3 separate regions of the Homo sapiens genome follow, and regions 1 and 2 are each linked to region 3. The links come from fine-mapping of genetic effects on gene expression. A gene starts in region 3. Each other region holds a variant in brackets. All regions are shown on one strand. Distances are between the middles of the regions. Region 1 overlaps CIITA (class II major histocompatibility complex transactivator). Region 2 overlaps CIITA (class II major histocompatibility complex transactivator). Region 3 holds the start of CIITA (class II major histocompatibility complex transactivator).

Evidence for each region. PIP is the estimated chance that this variant, and not a neighbour inherited with it, causes the effect.
Region 1: its variant is fine-mapped to the expression of CIITA in whole blood (TOPMed, PIP above 0.99).
Region 2: its variant is fine-mapped to the expression of CIITA in whole blood (TOPMed, PIP above 0.99).

The regions. Positions count from the first base shown.
Region 1 is chr16:10,924,870-10,935,236 of GRCh38, forward strand. CIITA (class II major histocompatibility complex transactivator) reads left to right here. Exons shown (of 20, transcript NM_000246.4): 20 at 1-10,367. It overlaps DEXI (Dexi homolog), which reads right to left. Exons shown (of 2, transcript NM_014015.4): 2 at 4,022-4,690. Among named protein-coding and RNA genes, the nearest start is that of DEXI, 12 kb to the right of the region's middle. RefSeq lists an enhancer at 5,754-5,803. The variant C/T (reference allele first, on the strand shown) is at 3,296.
Region 2 is chr16:10,911,133-10,916,132 of GRCh38, forward strand. It overlaps CIITA (class II major histocompatibility complex transactivator), which reads left to right. Exons shown (of 20, transcript NM_000246.4): 14 at 4,438-4,518. Among named protein-coding and RNA genes, the nearest start is that of DEXI, 29 kb to the right of the region's middle. RefSeq lists an enhancer at 1,276-1,325. The variant G/A (reference allele first, on the strand shown) is at 2,373.
Region 3 is chr16:10,875,187-10,880,186 of GRCh38, forward strand. It overlaps CIITA (class II major histocompatibility complex transactivator), which reads left to right and starts at 2,016. Exons shown (of 20, transcript NM_000246.4): 1 at 2,016-2,196. The coding sequence starts at 2,145. RefSeq lists enhancers at 1,630-1,709, 2,040-2,109, 2,150-2,229, 2,270-2,319, 3,740-3,789 and 2 more.

The DNA of each region.
Region 1 (10,367 bases), 52 kb after region 3:
GTCCAGGGTTTGAGTTCATACCCTGTTACCATTTTGGGGTACCCACTGCTCTGGTTATCTAATATGTAACAAGCCACCCCAAATCATAGTGGCTTAAAACAACACTCACATTTATTCTGCTCACATATCTGTCATTTGAGCAGGGCTCAGCGGGGACAGCTCCTTCTGTCCTACTCTGTGTCAGGTGGGGCAGCTTGAGGGTTGGGCTGGTGTCACCTGAAGACTCATTCTTCTGTACGTCTGACAGGCAATGCTGGCTGTTGGCTGGGGGCCTCAGTGCCACTACGGAATAGTTGGCTAGGACCCCTCCATGTGGGCTAGTTGGGCTTCCTCATAGTATGGTGGCTGGGTTGGAGGGTGTCCCAAAAAGAAAGGAGGGGATAGAGAGAGACCACTTTTCATAACCTAGCCTTAGAAGTCACACAGTATTACTTCTGCTACATATATATGTTTTAAGAGGCAGGGTCTCACTCTGTCGCCCAGTCTGGAATGCAGTGGTATGATCACGGCTCACTGCAGCCTCAACCTCCTGGGCTAAGTGATCCTCCCACCTCAGCCTCCCGAATAGCTGGGACTACAGGTGTGAGTCACCAAGCCCAGTTAATCTTTAGTTTTATTTTTGTAGAGCCAGGGTCTCACTATGTTGCCCAGGCAGGTCTTGAACTCCTGGCCTCAAGTGATTCTCCTGCCTCAGCCTCCCAAAGTGCTGGGATTACAGGTGTGAACCACCACACCCAGCCCACTTCTGCCATATTCTGTTGGCCAGTGTGACAAGGATTGCTACTGTCCTACCCACCCTCCTTTCACCACATGTGCACATGCACGTGTGTGCACGTACACACACATACACACACACGCGTGCACACACCAGAGCCCACCTTGGCTCAAGTCCTCTTTTCTGAGAGGACTTTTCTTTGTGGCTTCCTAAAATTCAGTGGAAAATTAATTGTTTGGGGATGAGAAAGGTTGAAGCACCAAAAGCTTACCAAGGGGAATGTTTGCCTCTGCCTCTGACACACAGCTCTGTCCTGGGAGTGAGCTGGTTTTTAGCGGAGACGGAGTCCCACCTTGGCTGCAGGGAGTCCGAAAGGGACTTGGAAGCTCCGCTTTCTACCCAGCGAGCTGCCGGCACGACTGTTGCTTTTCACTCGGGCATAGTCTGCTCAGAAGCCCCAATTCAAGACATCTTAGCTTACTCCTGGTGGCAGTGGGAGCTGCCTGTTCAGCTCCAGCTCACCAGCCCCAGTGCCCACAGGATCAGTCTGATTCCCAAGCTCTGCTCCTCTCCCCAGCAAGTGAGAGCTGGGTGTCAAGAGGGTCTGAGGAATCCAGACCCGGCTGCGTGGTTGATGATCTTTGCAGACAGGCAAGCACCTCCTGCCTCGAACTGGCTGCAAAGGGTATCAGGTGCTGCCATCCAGGTTCAGCTTGTAAATAGCTCAGGTGTCACCCTGCAAGGGATCCCTGCACTTGCAGACTCTACAGAGGCCATGGGCCTCCTGTGTGTGCGCCTACAGGAGTGAGCACTAAGGTGTGCTCTGATCATCCACTGTGCCATGTGCCAGGTTTTTGGTCTGACCCACTGCTTTTGGTCTGTGTGATGATGAAATGAGGTCAGAGCCTGCAGTTATTAACACTAACGATTTGTTAATGATAGCTACTGTTTATTATTTTATTTAATTTTTTTGAGACAGAGTTTTCACTCTTATTGCCCACGCTGGAGTGCAGTGGCATGATCTCGGCTCACTGCAACCTCTGCCTCCTGGGTTCAAGCAATTCTCCCACCTCAGCCTCCCAAGTAGCTGGGATTACAGGCATGCACCACCACGCCTGGCTAATTTTTGTATTTTTAGTAGAGATGGAGTTTCACCATGTTGGCCAGGCTGGTAATCTGCCTGCCTTGGCCTCCCAAAGTGCTGGGATTACAGGGGTGAGCCACCGCACCCGGCCACTACTGTTTATTTAATGAGCAGATACATGCAAAGCCCTTATCACAGTGCAAGGGAAATTCAAAGCGCTCAGAAAGTATTAGCTCAATAAGTGATGACTGTGTGCCAGACACTGTGCTAAACTCCTACTCAAGAGGGATAAGAGTCTAGGGGCAAGTGGCAGAGACTCTAGAACGAGATTGCCTGGGCTCAACGCCCACCTCACCACTTACTTATGCAAGCTAGTTCTCTGTGCCTCAGTCTCCTCATTTGTAAAATGGGCATAACCACAGCACCTTCTTTATAGGATTATGTGAAGGTGTGGTGAGCTAATACGTTAAGAATTGGAGCTCAATAACATGTTGGCTGTCATTATTACATATATCTGTGTTTCATTCTTGCCTCTGGCTGGAATGTTCTTCCCAGCTCTCCATATGGCTGATTTCTCATCCTTCGGGACTTGCCCCATTCTCCAACCCCATCACTAGTTTTATCTTTTTCACTTATTTATGCAGTCTGCTCTTGTCCTAGGACATGAGCTCCAGGAGGGCGGGAAACATCTCGCTTTGTACACTGCTGTGCCCTCTGTACCCAGCAAGGCGCCTGTGTATAATAGGTGCTCAATAACATAAAATGAACAAATAATCCTCACCTAACGGTTTCATTCATTCTGCAAATACATACTGACAGCACAGTCATGAATAAGATGTTCCTGCCCTGGTGAGTCTTATATTTTAGCAAATTAAAAAAACTCTTTGGACAGGGCTGCCAGGTGAGGTTGGCCAGTCTGTACACTGCACAAAGGCACCTGGGACAAGGGGGAACATGGGGGCTGCAAACCAGTCTGGGTTCTGCTTGCCAAACTGGGAGTCCTGGTGTGGAGCCTTTTAACCCAGAGGGGCATCTTTTCGTAGTTAACGCACAGTCATCGTAAGATGTGGATAAATTACTGTCTCCGTGTCACAGATCTAAGTGATACTTATAGTCACACTCCTATAAAGGAATGGACTTCTGACTTCTTTGGAGGACCTCTCTGCAGGGACAGGCACAGTGTGCCGGAAGTGCCCCTGAACCCCATTTGTCAGGTGGTAAAGCGCTGCTCGGAGGAATCAGGGCATGATAGTGCAATTCCATGTCCAGTGGATTGTAAGTCCACGCACCTTCCAAATGGTCACTCTTCCTCGCAGGCCTCTCTCTGCATACAAATGTCTCCCTCCTGACGCTCACCTTTTTCCCTGGGGCTCTCAAATGTCTTCTTTTCAGATTTCGTAGCTTTTCTTTCTTTAGCATCACTTGAGGGCAAGTGGTGCTCCAACTGTCTCCCCCCAGAGTTCTGCCGCCTGTACTCTCCCACACCTCAGTCTCCT[C/T]GCCTGTAGAAAGGGGTCAATCGTTTGAACCCTGCTTCACTTGGTGTGTATGTGAAGGTGCTTTGAAATCAAGTGCTCTGCAAACTGGAGAGAATTACTGCTTGTATTCCGTGAAACTACAAGCTCCCAATTCCACTCATTTAATCCCTCTCTTGCTCTGTTGCCCAGGCTGGAATGCAGTGGCATGATCTCAACTCACTGCAACCTCTGCCTCCCTGGTTTCAAGCAATTCTCCTGCCTCAGCCTCCCGAGTAGCTGGGACTATAAGTGTGCGCCACTATGCCTGGCTAATTTTTTTGTATTTTTAGTAGAGATGGGGTTTCACCGTGGTGGCCAGGCTGGTCTCGAACTCCTAACCTCAAGTGATCTGCCCGCCTCGGCCTTCCAAAGTGCTGGGATTACAGGCATGAGCCACCATGCCAAGCCCTTCCCCCCTATCTTTAATGAAGGTCTACCATGTGCCTGACACAGGGGATACCCACCCCCACTTCTATGGGATTCAGGCCTGGTTTCCAGCTTGGCCTTCAGGCTTTTCCCACCACACCCCAAATGCTGTCCCTGGCTTGTGGAGTGGGGCAGGGGGCCAGCCTGGGACTTTCACGCCAGCCCGACTGGGGCAGACTCTCTCAACCCCACTGGATCTTCTGCTGTTTGTCAGCCACAAGGTTCTGCCTAGAACTCCTTTCCCGAATCTCAAAGTTAAAAAAAAAGGCAGGGCCCCAGGGGTTGGAGTTGCATACATTTTTTTTTAATCCAAAGAAGTAAGCCTCCTAAGTATTGCTTAGACAGGTTTATCAGAATTAAGTAGGCACAACACTCATACTTTCAGAAAAGCATTTCCAGCCAGGGGAGTAACGTGGCACTCACCAGCATGATGTCTGTTTTGCCAACTTGCTGAAGAACGAGTAACCTGAAATGAAGGAGCGAGAATCCCACCCTCAGCCCCCCAACAGCTTCCTCAGCTTCTTTTTCTTCTGAGTCACCCCTGAAACAGTCGCTGCATCTAAGACCAGCCTCGGGCTAAACCCAGCTGGCCTGAAGGCTCAACTCACATCAAACGGAGCTGGGAGTCGCTTTTGCGTGTGTCCGCAGTTTGAAGTGTCCTCTCCGAAGGTGAAGTGGGGGAAGCAGGTGCGCTCCGGGATGAAGTGCAGGGAGGCAAACTCTGGCTGGGTTCCTGTAAACATCCATCGCAGCTGCAAATAATCAGAAGCCAAGGCCAGGCCATCGATTTGACACTGCAGGCAGATGAGGTCTTGGGATGCCTCTTGCGTTCCCCCTTCTGTGGGAGCAGGTGCCTTCCCAACCTCAGCACTCAGTCCCAATCTCTCTTCCACTCTCCTGGGTTCAAACAGGAACCTCTCTGTTGGCACGAAGCTTTTGAGGGGAGCAGGTCTAACAAGAAGGAAAAAGGGGGGTTATTAGCACGGAAGCCCCACCCTGCCACCAGGTTGGCTGGGGACAGGGACCAATCCACCAGGCTCGGGAGGCTTGGGGTGGGGCAGGGAAGTCTTCCTCCATCCCTCAAATTTAGGGAACCACTGGGAGCCCCAGACTCAGGCTGAAAATGTCTTTCTGCAAATATAAAACTCTTTTTAATGAATTTGCCTAATTTCTCAGAGACCCTGGGCTGGAGAACCAGTGCAATGTCACACGGGAGAGGAAGGACTGTCCTGTTTATTGGGAGGGAGGAGGGGGATGCTGGTGCAGCCTGCTCAGGAGTCACCCAGGGTCTGAGGGCTGACTTGCAGCTCTGGGCCAGCTGAGCCAGCGCTGGGTAGTGGGCAGGGCTTGGCAACACCTTCCACCTTGCCCGGAAAAATGCTTTGCAACCTACAGGAAGGCAATAGCCACAGCCAAGTTACTCAGCAGCCCCACTTGGCTCTTTCTCCCAGGATGCAGCATCATCTCCATGGCCTGGCCCCCTGGCACGTCCCCGTTTCCCACTGCCTTCTCTGTGTGCCTAGCCGGGTGCCAGTGTCTCTGTAGCACCTCGTGTTCCCATGCCCAACCCCTCTGCAGCCCCCTCAAGCCCTGCTCTGATTCCAAGCCTCATCTCCCAGCTCACTATCCTTTCCGCAAACTTCACTGAACATCTCGCAGAACTTGTATGTTAAACATGTGACATGTATTGTTGTTTGACAGGGTGCTATTGACATTTGGGGTAGGACAATTCTTGGAGGTGGGGTGGCTGTTCTGGGCACTGAGCATTTAGCAGCATCTCTGGCTCCAGGCCACTAAATGCCAGTAGCACCCCTGGCCACTGGAACAACTAAAAATGCCCTCCTACCCTATTTCCAAGGTCGACCTAAGGGGGCGGAACTGTTTCCATTGAGACCCATGCATCGTATAGGATAAGAAACTGAGGTTCTTATCATTTAATAGGATAAGAAATTGAGGTTCAGAGAAGCCAAGTAACCTGCCTAAAGATGCACAGCTATGAGAGGCAAAGCTGGCACTGGCTTGGTAATAACGATGGAAACGGTCTGAATGAGAGCAGGTACCATTTCCTGAGCTCTTAGCAGACGCTGAGGACCCTGCTAAGTGCCATGAGACCTTAGCAGAGGCTGTGGGTGCCCCGCCCCATTCCCTCCACTCACTCTTCCTTGCAGGTCGACCTGCCCTTCTTTGCTGAGGCCTTTCTCTGCCTCCAGAGCCTGCTTGGTCCTCAGGCTGTAAGTGCAGGCAGAGCTAATGTCTCTCCATAGCTGCCCTCCACCAGCCTGCTCCTGAGACACCTGCTGGCCAGCAGCCTGAAGCAGAATCCTTTACTCAGATTCAGCCGCACAGATGCTCACTGCAGAGATCTCCAAGGCCTGTGGTCATCCTTGAGCCCATCTCAGATTTGTGTGGATAGGGTGTTAGAGAACATGGAATCAGCTGGATAGAGTGGTTCATGCTTGTAATCCCAGCACTTTGGGAGGCTGGGGTGGGAGGATCACTTGAGGCCAGGAGTTTGAGACCAGCCTGGGCAACACAGTGAGACTGTCTCTATAAAAAATTTAAAAATTAGCCAGGCATAGTGTAGTCTCAGCTACTTGGAAGGCTGAGGCAGGAGGATTGCGTGAGCCCAGCAGTTCAAGGCTGCAGTGAACTATGACTGTGCCCCTGCACCCAGCCTGGGTGACAGAGACCCTGTCTCAAAAAAAAGAGAAGATGGAATCACTCGGTGAGGACCTCACTCCTCTCCCAGTCCTGTGACCACAAACCGCATCCCCGACAGTCCCAGCCAGGCGCTAGTCTGGCTGTAGCTGCCCTCTTGTGTGCAGATCTCCAGTCTGAATGGGCTACACGTGGAATTTACTAACACTCCGGTTTTCATTGTGTTTATCTGTAGGGTTACCTTCTATTTATAGCAAGTGATGCCAAGTTTCCATTTCTGGTAGTAATATAGTTTTTCTTTTCCAAGTCGCTCACACCTGTAATCCCAACACTTTGGGAGGCTAAGGTGGGTGGATCAGTTGAGATCAGGAGTTTGAGACCAGCCTGGCCAACATGGCGAAATGAGGTCAAGACTAGCCTGGCCAACATGGCGAAACCGCGTCTCTACTAAAAACAAACAAACAAAAATACAAAATTCGCTGGGCATGGTGGCAGGTGCCTGAGGTCCCAGCTACTCGGGAGGCTGAGGCAGAAGAATCGCTTGAGCTAGGGAGGCAGAGGTTGCAGTGAGCCGAGATCACGCCACTGCACTATAGCCTAGGTGACAGAGTGAGACTCTGTCTCAAAAAAACACAAAAGTTTCTCTTTTCAAAACATTTTACTTTAAAAGGAGCCAATTTAAAGAAAACTGTTAATAGTTCAGGTAACAGGCAGATACAGGAAAAGCTGCTGACAGTGTTGTATGAGGTTTGAGGATTTTGATCCAAGCTGGTCCCACTCAGTCCATAGCAGAGAATGAAAGGGCCCAGAGAGGGTGGTGACCTCTGCCTGAAGTCACACAGTGAGTCGAGGACAGGGAGGTGACCCCAGGTTTCTATGTGTAGGGCGGGAGGATGTTCTGGGACACAGTTCAATTCTCATTTGTCACACACTTTGGCTATTAGAGATCAACCCCTTCGCTCCTGTGTCTTGCAATGGCAGCCTTGGCAAACGCTAAATGAAAATCGTGACAACACTTGTGTTATGAAGCATTTACTTTGTGTTCACCTTGTACTACTCGAACTCATGTCTTAACTCACTTATCCCTCAAAAACAACTCTAGGAGGTAGGGCCAAGTAGGACCATCATCCCTGCATTTCACATGGAGCTCAGAGAGGTTAAGCAAGCCGTGCAAGGCCACACAGCTCATAAATGGCAGAGCCAGGATTTGAACCCCCGTGGCCTGACCCCAAAGCCGAAACCACTCGGCACTGCAGGTTCGTCCCTTTTCTCTGAGATGGGGGTATCCAATCTTTTGGCTTCCCTGGGCCACAGTGGAAGAACTGTCTGGGGCCACATATAAAATATACTAATGATAGCTCATGAGCTAAAAAATAAAACAAAATCACACACACACACACAAAAAAACACAAACCAAAAAAAAAATTCTTTTTTTTTTTTTTTTTTTGAGACAGGGTCTTGCTTTGTCACCCAGGCTGGAGGGCAGTGGCATGATCTTGGCTCACTGCAGTTCCAGGTTCAAGCAATTCTCATGCCTCAGCCTCCTGAGTAGCTGGGACTACAGGCGCATGTCACCATGCCTGGCTAATTGATGTATTTTTTAGTAGAGATGGGGTTTCACCATGTTGGCCAGGCTAAAATCTCATAACGTTTTAAGAAAGTTTATGAATCTGTGTTGGGCCACAGTCAAAGCCGTCCTGAGCTGTATGCAGCCTACAGGCCGCACCACGGATTGAACAAGTTTCTTCTAAGGCATCAAGAGCCCCAGGCTGAAAAGCACCCCAGAGCTGGAGCTTATAGAACCCAGGGCAGCAGGTTCTCCAACCTTCTGACATCATCAGAGCACAGCAGACAAGTTATCAGCCACTAGATTTTTTTCCCCCTTTCTGAAACTGTAACCTTTCATTCCAGCCATTCCCCAGAGCTGGACAGAGGACGTGGCTGGCTGGCTGGTTTCTGTAGTCAGAATGACAGTTGGGTGCTAGATCCCCTTCGTGAAGCAATGTCTTAGCTCAGTAACTCTGCAGAGAAGCTGCCTGGTTCAGGATGTGGCTTAAGTAAGAAGATGGCCCTGGCGTTTTACGCGCACTGGTGGGTGAGGCTCTGAAAGTGGTAGAAGGGAATTCTTTCCTAGAGTTCAGCTGCCCGCTGTCCTGCTCCTCAGGGCAAATGCTGTGAGATCTGCATTTAGCCTGTCTGTGCTGATTGTGGTTCTGCCCCTTCCTGGCTGTGTGACCTCAGACAAGTCACCCACCCTCTCTGGGCCAGTTTCCTCATCTGGAAAAGGGGACAGTGCCCACCACATTGGGCTGTTTGTGTCCATGGAGTGCCTGACAATACCCAGCACACACGAGACATCAGTACAGGGTGGTTCCTTCCCTCCTTAGCCCCACCTGTTCCCAGGTAGAAACCAATACCGGCAGGGAACCTTCTCAAGGCTAGGGGCCTTCTGAAAGCAGCAGCACTTTTCCTCCTTCAAAGACCTTGCCTTCTAGAAACCCATTGCTCATTCCTTTCTCCATGTACCAAAAAATCAATTAAAGTGGCTAAAGACAGACGTCACCCTCCCCTACTCACGCAGCCATTCTGATCCTCCACGCTGGTGACAGGCTATGTGGCAGGAGGGTCTCTACCTTATCTCAGAATGAAGGCATGGCTGGGGTCTGGCTGTCTCCTGGTGGCCGGAAGGAGACAGACGGCAAAGGAGAAGCTGCCTGTCTCTGCACAGGTCCATGTCCCTGAGGAAAGCCAACGTCACAGAGAAATGATGACCACTTTCTCAAACCTGGCTTCGGATTTGCACGTTGGCTGCCAAAGCTGATCAGCAGCGGGCTTTGTGAAGATGCCTGGTCTACCACGTGCCTCCAGCTGGTCACGCCCAAGACTCCCTGAGCCCTCTGGAAGGGCAGCACTTGCCCAGTGCCTCCCTCCAGGTCCTGCCACATCCAAGAACCACCTGGACTATTATTTACTTAGTATTTTAAACCAATGTACTTTTTAAACTCCAATTTTTTAATAAGATCATTTATGTCACCATATAACACCCAAAGCAGTAGAATTTGTCATACACAGAAGGCAATGCTAAAAATACAATGAAAATGGAACCAGGAAGTCTAGCTTGATACCCTTGGCCTGTATAACTGAGCCTTGTGCCAGTTAAAAGGGCAAAGCAGTAGGTGCTCAGGGGGTGTCGGGGCCCTGAGAGCTGATCTGATCCGCTGCTGCGTATTCACTACCGCCCTGGGACGCCTCCAGCAGACCACCTCACTGGGGGAAACATCAGGACAGCGTGGCCAGGAGCCCAATGCTGCCACCTCATAGATGGGTATCTGAGATGAGTCATCGAACTTCTGCAAGCCTCAGTTTCCTCCCTGGTCTAATGGAACCCTCCTTGGCGGCTTCACAGGGTGATGCTTGGGGCAGGTGATGGAGATGTGGGAGAGGCAGTTATTTTTAACCACCCAGCCAAGCCCCTTGCCAGGAGGGACTCCCAGAAATGAAGCCTTACCCTTGAGGGAGTTCCCCGCCACTCCAAGCTTGGGGCCTGGGATGGCAGCTGTGAGGGCACCAGCACCATCTGGGGACTCGCTGGGTACCAATTATCACCGCCCTTGGGCTACTTCAAAGGCTGCCCACACAGACACACCCTCCTTGGTAACCAGTCCTCAGGAGGAAGGGCACCCAAGGAAAGGGGGAAGGCTTCCTGGGCTAGAGCCCCTTCAGGGTCTGACACGCCATTGACACTGACCACGTCATTCATTAAGCAAGCACCAACTATACATCATTCACTATCCCAATCTAATTTGCACAAGCCCTTAGGCAGGTGCTACTATTATCCCTGTTTTACAGAGAAGGAAACCGAGGCTTAGGAGATGAAGTCTGAGGTGTTGGTGGAGCTGGGATTTAAACCAAAATATGTCCAACTGCAAAGCATGTAAGTAACAATTTTAGAGGGTATACGGAGGTGACC
Region 2 (5,000 bases), 36 kb after region 3:
TACATGGGCCCCAAGAAAGCACAATAATTATTATATTTAGATCTGTCAGAATATAGCTTTTCTTTCTTTCTTTCCTTTCTTCTCTCTTTCTTTTTCTTTCTTTCTTCTTTCTTTCTTTCTCTCTTTCTTTCCTCTTTCTTTCCTTTCCCTTCCTTTTCTTTCCTTCCCTCCCTCCCTCCTTCCTTCCTTCCCTCCCTCCCTTCTTCCCCCTTTTCTTCTTTTTCTTTCTCTCTGTTTCTTTCTTTCTTTCTCTCTCTCTCTCCCTTCCTTCCTCCCTCCCTATCTCTCTCTTTCTTTCTTTCTTTCCTTCTTTTCTTTCTTTCCTTTCTCTCCTTTCTCTTTCTTTCTTTCCATTCTCTTTCTTTCTCTTTCCTTCCCTCCCTTCCTTCTCTTCCTTCCTTCTTTTTCCTTTCCTTTTCTTTCCTTTTCTTTTCTTTCTTGAGGCAGAGTCTTACTCTGTCCCTCAGGCTGGAGTTCAGTGGCACAATCACAGCTCACCACAGCCTCAACCTCCCTAGGCTCAAGTGATCCTCCCACCTCAGCCTCCCTAGTAGCTGGGACTACAGGCATGCCCCACCTGACTAATTTTTGTATTTTTTGTAGAGACAGGATTTCACCATGTTGCCCAGTCTGGTCTCGAGCTCCTGGGCTCAAGCAATCCTCCCACCTCAGCCTCCCAAAGTGCTAGGATTACAGGTGCGAGCTCCCGCACCTGGCCAGAACAGGCTTTTAAATTTGCAGCTCACCTTCCATCTCAATTATCTCAGGCCACCCTCCTCTACAGGCATTGTCATCATCTCCCCATTGTACAAATGGCAATGCTGAGAACAAGAGACTTTAAATTGTTTATCCAAAGTCATAAAGGTCAGGTCAGCCTGGCCCTAAGCTCCTTCCACAGAAAAAGCTAAATGAATGTTTGTTCCTTGGTAGGGGTCTAGATCATCTAATGATTAGGAAGGAGTTGTTATGCCTGTGGTATATTCGGTGCTGTTTTTTTTTGGAGATGGGGTCTTGCTCTGTCACCCAGGCTAGAATGCAGTGGTATGATCTTGGCTCACTGCAATCTCCACCTCTCGGTTCAAGCAATTTTCCTGCCTCAGCCTCCCGAGTAGCTGGGATTACAGGTGTACACCACTACACCTGGCTAATTTTTGTATTTTTAGTAGAGACGGGCTTTAACCATGTTGGCCAGGCTGGTCTTGAACTCCTGGCCTCAGATGTTCCTCCCACCTCAGCCTCCCAAAGTGCTGGGATTACAGGTGTAAGCCACCATGCCCAGCTTATAATTCAGTGCATTTTATATATAATCTCATTAATCTCAAGAGCTACTGTGGAAGACAGACAGTCATCATCTTCCCCATTTTACAGATGAGGAGACGGAGGCCTGGTGAGGTTAAGTGACTTGCCCGTGGTCCCCCAGCTGGTCACCCACAAGCTATCAGCTCTCCCTGATCACTGCTCCCCTGTGCCCCAGAAAAAAGCCAGTGTCTCTTGTTTTGAACAGAGACAAGGTGCTAAATTTGTCCAGAGGTAAAAATGATGCTGAAAAGGGGAAATGTCTGAAAACAATAACTGAGGGCCCTTTCTGGCCTTAAATTATTTTCAGCTGAAAAAGCCCCTAGTTCAAGATCGGAACTGCGCTCTGGGGAACAGCGGCCATGGGGTGGAACAGCCTAGAGCCGGGTGATCAGCCACCTGGAGACCGGAAGCCCCCGAGGAGGTTCTGAGGAAGGAAGGAAGGAAGGAAAAGACTATTTCTGGCATTTTCTCAGGCTTCTACTGTGCCCAGGCACCCTGTAGACCTCATCTGTCTGTCAAATCAGGGTTCTTAGCCACTCACAACCCTACAGGGACTTCGTTTGTACACAGAGTCCTTCCCCAGTTCAGTCCCCACTCACCTGTTCACCCTTATCTCCTACACTCGCTGGGTGCTCTCTCCATTCCAGCCACAGGGCCTCCTTGCTGGCTTTCAACCTCCTAGGCATGCTTCTGCCTCCAGGCCTTTGCACCGGCTGTGCCCTCTGCCTGGAATACTTCTCCCCAGATATCTGCATGGCTCATGCCTTCACCTCCTCTGGTCTTTACTCAGTGAGGCCTTTTCTTTTCTTTCTTTCCCTGTTTCTTTCTTTCTTTCTTTCCCTCCTTTCTTTCTTTCTTTCCCTTTCTTTCTTTCTTTTTCCTTTTTTCTTTTTCTTTTTTTGAGGTGGAGTCTCGCTCTGTCACCCAGGCTGGAGTGCAGTGGCACAATCTCGACTCACTGCAACCTCCTCCTCCCAAGTCCAAGTGATTCTCTTGCCTCAGCCTCCCGAGTAGCTGGGACTACAGGCACATGTCACCACATCTGGCTAATTTTTTGTATTTTTAGTAGAGAC[G/A]GGGTTTCACCGTGTTAGCCAGGATGGTCTCAATCTTCTGACCTCGTGATCCCCCCACCTCGGCCTCCCAAAGTGCTGGGATTACAGGCGTGAGCCACCACACCCGGCCTCAGTGAGGTCTTTTCTGACCCTCACAGTTAAAAATAAAACTCTGGCCAGGCGCAGTGGCTTATGCCTGTAATCCCAGCACTTTGGGAGGCCGAGGCAGGTGGATCACAAGGCCAGGAGTTTGAGACCAGCCTGGCCAACATAGTGAAACCCCATCTCTACTAAATATACAAAACAAATTAGCTGGGCATGGTGGCAGGTGCCTGTAGTCACAGCTACTTGGGAGGCTGAGGCAGGAGAATCATTTGAAACCGGGAGGCGGAGGTTGCGGTGAGCTGAGATCACGCCACTGCAGTCCAGCTTGGATGACAGAGTGAGACCCCATCTCAAAAATAAATAAATAAATAAATAAATAGAACTCCATTCCCCTCATGGTTAAAAAAAAAACTCCATCCCCCTCACCACTGTATATTTCCATATGATTCATTGTCTCAGACATCAGCTTGCTTTCCGATTTCTTTGATTATCTGTCTATCTTCCCCCCTGGAATGTCAGCACCCAGAAGGCAGGGATTTTCGTCTGTTTGGCCCACAACTTTCCTCCCTGGGCCTGGCACATAGTAGGCAAGCGGTCAATATTTAACAACGAATGCCTTAATCCAAGAACCCCCATAAGATTGGGGTGAAATATTTGAGGAGATCAAGACTTAAGGGTGAAGGGATTTGCCAAGGCCTTTAGCAGGGAGCCAAATGCCAGATCCTGGAGTCAAACTCTGATCCTGTGGCCTTTTGCTGAGGCCAGTGTTCTCAGACTTCAGGATTTCAGAGGCCGAGAACATTTCGGAATGAATTCGAGTGACCGTGCGCGGTTACTGTTTTTTAATGTTTATCAAGGATGCTCATTCAAACAAACAAATAACAACAAAATACCCACTGCTGGCACCATAATTTTACCAAAGAATGATCATTCTAATATTGAAAAAGTTCAAAGGACATAATTGCAGAATAAAAGACAGCTCTTTATATGGAATGCATTTAACCATATTTTTAAACTAAACGGCCCTTCGTTGTCCTTATTTTTCTCATCCCCTTGAAGTCTGCTCTAAATGTTGATCCAGGCTGTGTGACCCTGTGTGAGCTATTTGATCGCCTAGTGCCTCAGTTTCCCTATATGTAAAATGGAGATAAGAGCCCATAGCTCAGAGTCTTGAGGAGTAAATGAGATCTAGGCCGAGGGAAGGGCCTAGCATGCCCCTGGCTTATAATAAATGCTCAACAAATGGTTCCTTTTGTTATTAAAATGCAAAGGCATATTAGTCAACCACCTGGTTTACCACTGGCAGTGGTCGTCAGCTGGCATTTCAGGACCCCTTCCCCAGGCTGCGGCGGGAGAAGGGTATCTGTGGATGTTGGGAAGAGTAAGAACTGGCTCCCTACTTAGAGACAAAAGCTGGGGAGCCCCAAGATGGGAGCCCAACTTACCTCTTTTTCTTTTCTTTTTTTGTTTTTTTTCTTTTTTGAGACAGGGTCTCGCTCTTACCCAGGCTGGAGTGCAGTGGTGTGATCATGGCTCACTGCATCCTCCACCTCCTGGGCTCAAGCGATGCTTCCACCTCAGCCTCCTAAGAAGCTGAGACCACAGGACACACCACCACACTTGGCTAATTATTGTGTTTTTTGTAGAGACTGAGTCTCACTATGTTGCCCAAGCTGGTCTTGAACTCCTGGGCTCAAGCAGTCCTCTTACCTTGGCCTCCCAAAATGCTGGAATTACAGACATGAGCCACTGTTCCCAGCCTCAACTGGCCTCTTATGGGGGGCTATGAAATCTACCCCAAGCAGAAAAGATTGGGGTCCTACGTGGAAGGGTTGCAGGGACCTAAGAGGCTGGGGTGGAAGGGAAGAGGAGGGGCCTCAGACAGGACCTGACTTCTGTGCCTTGTCTCTGCCCCACCCTGGGGCTGAATGAGGGGCTGTGACTGTGACTGGAGGTCTTACCCTTGCTCTTTGCCTCCTAGGCTGGGCCCTGTCTCAGGCCCCCAGGCTTTCCCCAAACTGGTGCGGATCCTCACGGCCTTTTCCTCCCTGCAGCATCTGGAGTGAGTATAGACTCTGGGACCCCTTCCTCTCAACATCTGGGTGCAGTGCTGTGATCATAGCTCACTGCAGCCTCGAATTCCTGGCCTCAAGTAGTCCTCCTGCCTCAGCCTCCTGAGTAGCTGGGACCACAGGTGCATGCTACAGTGCCCAGCAACCTCTGGGTTTTGACAACCCCAAATCCTGCCCCCAAGGCACCTGCAGAAAGAAAAGCCCTCACTTTGTCCCTTTTTTTCTCTCTTCCGCCTACTGCATCCTCAATGTGGCTGGCACATGAGTGATGAGATGACGCCACATCAGATGGGAATCCCCAGTGACAAAAAAAGTTGTAGATCCTTTCGTGACCTTTGAAACTCCTTTCCTCACAACCTCATTTGCTGCTCTCAGCAATTCAGCTGGGGAGGGATTGGGGAGCATAGTCCTACTTTACAGTGGAGGTTAAGGAAGTTGCCAAGCCTCAGGGGCTTAGTTCCTAAGAAGCTAA
Region 3 (5,000 bases):
GACCTCAAATGATCTGCCCACCTCAGCCTCCCAAAGGACTAGGATTACAGGCATGAGCCACTGTGCCTGGTCATTCTTAGAATTTCTGACATTCACCATATCCGTTTGTTAGCCCCACTAAGCAAGGCTGTTTCAAATTGACTCAGCATTTCTTATTTGTCAATTTCTACCCCACTCCTCACCCGGGGACTTCTGAAAACAGTGAAGGCTTCAAAGTAATCACCTTACAAAGAAGGGCATCATCCTCATTTCACACATGGGGAAACTGAGGACCACAGAGAGGAAGTAAAGAGGCCAAGGTCACACACCTGCTACTAAGTTCCCCGTCCAGTGCTCTTTCAGCAAAAATGCATGAGGCACACAAGTCATGTTTCCAAACCTTCATTTCAGTACCACCTTCATCATTTTTGTGTTTTCCACATAACACTTTACTATTATTTATGACAGGGTTTTTTTTAACCACTCACCTTTTTTACTTATCTTTCTTTTCTTTTTCTTTAGGAGAGGCAGGATCTCACTCTGTTGCCCAGGCTGGAGTGTATTTCATGATCATAGCTCACTGCAGCCTCCAACTCCTGGGCACACTCGATCCTCCCACTTCAGCCTCCAGAGTAGCTGGGACTATAGTTGTGCACCATCATACATGGCTAATTTTTAAAAAATCATTTGTAGAAAAATTAGCTGGATGTAGGAGAATGGCGTGAACCCAGGAGGCGGAGCTTGCAGTGAGCCAAGATAGCGCCACTGCAGTCCAGCCTGGGCGAAAGAGCGCGACTCCGTCTCAAAAAAAGAAAAAAAGAAAAGAAAAGAAAAATTAGCTGGACATAGTGGCAGGTGCCTGTAATCCCAGCTGCTCGGGAGGCTGAGGCAGGAGAATCAGTTGAACCCAGAACCCGGGAGGCGGAGGTTGCAGCGAGCCAAGATCATGCCATTGCACTCTAGCCTGGCAATAAGAGTGAAACTCCGTCTAAAAAAAAACAAAAACAAACAAAAAAAACCCCAACAATTTGTAGACATAGGGTGTCACTATGTTGCCCAGGCTAGCCTCCAACTCCCGGCTTCAAGCAATCCTCCTGCTTCGGCCTCCCAAAATGTTGGAATTACAGGCACAAGCCACCTGGCCCAGCCATCTACTTTATATTCAAATAAAACTTTACGTCCCATTATAAAGGGAAAAAATGGCAAAAACAGGAGGTAACCATTTAACAAGAAAGCAGAGTGATGTTAGATTATAGCAAGATACTGTTGACTGTAGAAGGCTCTGAGGCTAGAGAGCTGCTTTCTATAAAACAGAGTGATCATATATTAGAAGAGGTGTTAAAGACATGTTCACACCAAGCTGAGACTTCCTCCTTGATACCACCAGGAGGATGGGCAGAGACTGGAAAAGACACTAACTTTCTCCCTATGGGAGTCAGTATTATTTAGCATCACTTTGGCGGGTCACCCCAAACCATCTGACTACAAGGGTACCATATTTGGGTTAACACTCTTTTGGTATAATTTATGTTTTAGTCCAATGTCTTGGGATGAAAATGACAGGTGGGCCACTTATGATCTCCAGAGAAATTCAGGGCAATTTGGTGTGGGAGTAGGCATGGTAGAGGAGAGCAGCATCTAAGAAGTCCCCAGCAGAGGCTCTCAGCTTGTCTTGAGGCATCTGGGCGGAGGGCTATGATACTGGCCCCATCCTGCAGAAGGTGGCAGATATTGGCAGCTGGCACCAGTGCGGTTCCATTGTGATCATCATTTCTGAACGTCAGACTGTTGAAGGTTCCCCCAACAGACTTTCTGTGCAACTTTCTGTCTTCACCAAATTCAGTCCACAGTAAGGAAGTGAAATTAATTTCAGAGGTGTGGGGAGGGCTTAAGGGAGTGTGGTAAAATTAGAGGGTGTTCAGAAACAGAAATCTGACCGCTTGGGGCCACCTTGCAGGGAGAGTTTTTTTGATGATCCCTCACTTGTTTCTTTGCATGTTGGCTTAGCTTGGCGGGCTCCCAACTGGTGACTGGTTAGTGATGAGGCTAGTGATGAGGCTGTGTGCTTCTGAGCTGGGCATCCGAAGGCATCCTTGGGGAAGCTGAGGGCACGAGGAGGGGCTGCCAGACTCCGGGAGCTGCTGCCTGGCTGGGATTCCTACACAATGCGTTGCCTGGCTCCACGCCCTGCTGGGTCCTACCTGTCAGAGCCCCAAGGTAAAAAGGCCGGGAAAGCATCTTAATTTAGCGTGCAGTCTCAGCTGGTCCTGCCATTCCAGATAAACAGAGAAACCATTCTGAATTGGGGATGGGGGTGAGGATGGGAACAGGAGTCTGTGTCCTGCTGGGGCAGGCCATTGGAAGATGTGAAAGAGTTGTCTATTTCCTTCCACCGGAGGGAGACTTCAGGTCAGCCAGGTGTCTGGAGTATGAACCATGTATCAGCACCGAAAGGTTCTAGAAGTCAGACTTTCGGGCAGTGTGTCACTAACTCTCAGCATGCTGGCCTGGCTCGGCCCACAGCAAGGTCTTCTCGCCTCCCTTTGGGTAAATACTGAGGGGTGCCTCTGCAGGACGGGACCTCTGCCAGACTCCACTCCATACCCAGAGAAGCAGGGAAACCAAAATTGGAGTCAGCCTTGAGGTGTAGCTGTTGAGCCCTCAGCAGCTGGGGAGAGCTGGCGGATGCTGCCCTCCCCCCAGTTTCCTAATGGTGTTGTTTAAAAAGGGTCAGGGGACGGGGGAACAGATGGTGGGAAGAGCACAGTGCAGACACCTGGCACCGGCTCTGAAGGCAGCATGGCAGCTACACCGTTGGCTGGGAAGGGTGTGCCCCTGAAGAAGTCGTTTACATTCTCGAGTCAATTTTCCTGGAGTGTACAATGGACCTGTGGGAAAGCCTGTATGAAAGGGTAATGATGAGGGACCTAGCACAGTGTCCAATATTTTATAGGAACTGGAATTGAGCTCATAGGAGCTCAATTTTATTGGCATTGCTGTTGTTGGATGGTTAAAGGGGTGGTATCCCTTTTCTCAGACTCCCCTGAAATGTATGGTTTGCTTTGAACCCAGAGACTGATGACAGGTCTGCCGGTGTGGTTGGGTGCAGCCTTAAGTTGCTACGGGAAAGTGTTGGAGGGGGAGAAGTCAGAGGTAACCTTGCCCCCTCCCTCAATTCCAGATGAGGAAATTCAGGCCTGAAAAGGGAAAGTGACCACCTCAAAGTCTCATGCCTTGGAGGACCCAGCAGGAATCCAAGACCTCTGAAAAGGACCGGCAGGGCTCTTGCCACGGCTGGGGGTGTGGTCATGGTAACACAGGTTTTCCATCCATGGAAGGTACCTGAGGGATTTTCTCTTCCTCCCTAGGGCCAGCATCAGAGGAGTGAATAGCTCAGTTAGCTCATCTCAGGGGCCATGTGCCCTCGGAGGTGGTTTGCCACTTTCACGGTTGGACTGAGTTGGAGAGAAACAGAGACCCACCCAGGGGTGGGGACAAGCTCCCTGCAACTCAGGACTTGCAGATCACTTGCCCAAGTGGCTCCCTAGCTCCTGGCTCCTGGCCCGGGGCCTGGGACTCTCCCCGAAGTGGGGCTGGCCACTGTGAGGAACCGACTGGAGGCAGGGACCTCTTGGATGCCCCAGGCAGTTGGGATGCCACTTCTGATAAAGCACGTGGTGGCCACAGTAGGTGCTTGGTTGCTCCACAGCCTGGCCCGAGCTCAGCGCTGCAGAAAGAAAGTGAAAGGGAAAAAGAACTGCGGGGAGGCGGGGAGGTAGGATGACCAGCGGACGAGCTGCCACAGACTTGCCGCGGCCCCAGAGCTGGCGGGAGGGAGAGGCCACCAGCAGCGCGCGCGGGAGCCCGGGGAACAGCGGTAGGTGACCAAAGTCTCCTCTGTAACCCCTAAGGTCGGGCTGAGAATCGAGGCTCCGAGACTGTCAGCTACTTGCTCAAGGTCACACAGCAAGTCTGGGAGGATGGGGGGATGGAATATGCAAAATGTAGGGCCGGGAAACACCTCGTTTCCAGCATCCCCGCAACGACTCTGCGCGGGAACCAGGAGCCGGGAACCCGGAGCTTGGCTTGCTGTGCCCAGAGCTCCGGGGCCGTGGGCGGGTGGCAGGAAAGCCTGGCGGCAGCTTCTGCAGAGAAGCCGGAGCGCAGACTGGGAGCGCGGAGCAGACACACTCCCCCGGCCACCCTTGGCCGACTCCGCGCGCCCGGGATCCTGCAGAGGTGCGCGCCCTTCTTGTACGCCAGACTTTGGACCAGGGCCGCCGTTCCCTGAGCTTCACTTTCCCTGTTGGGTCATATTCCATCTCTAACTCTGGAATCTTGGGTATTGGGCTCTCCAGGCGGGGGGCCCTGCTCAGGGAGGCAGTAGGGAGCCAAACCTTTAACCAGAGGATGGGATAAGTCCTCAACTCTCGTTGAACATCTTGGCGAAGGTGTGTGTTGTTGGGAGGGGTGGGGGAGGGATCCCCCCGGACTGAACCGATCTCTTGATCTCTCACTTCTCTACCTCGCTTTGGGGCCCTGAGTCACACCCTCTAAGGAGAGAGGCTAAAGCGCCCCGGAAAGCCAGCGTGCGAATGCCGGGGTGGGAGTGGGAGATTGGATCTCCCTGGGGTCCAGGAAAGCCGGAATCGGAGCCACCATGCTTAGCTTAGTCTGGAACTCTTAAAAGCCGCGGTCCTCCTGAGTCCCACAGCCCCTCTCCACCCTAGGTGGCACAGGAGAGGTGGCAAAAGCCTAGAAGTTCAAGGCATGGCTCCCTCCCCAGCCGCAGCCTGGAGTGTCTAACTTTGGCAGGAAGTCTTCCGTTTCTGCTCCCCACTCCAGAGAAAAAATAAATAAATACTTCTCCGGAGTGAGATTAAGGAAACAGGTACTTCTTCCTCTTGGAGAAAGAGGAGCCAAAGGAACTTGACTCCAACAAATGATCACCTTGCAAACCCCCGGCTCCCTTAGGGGATGACCTGGTCTCCAACAATCTCAGAGCGTTTGGAGGCAGGGTC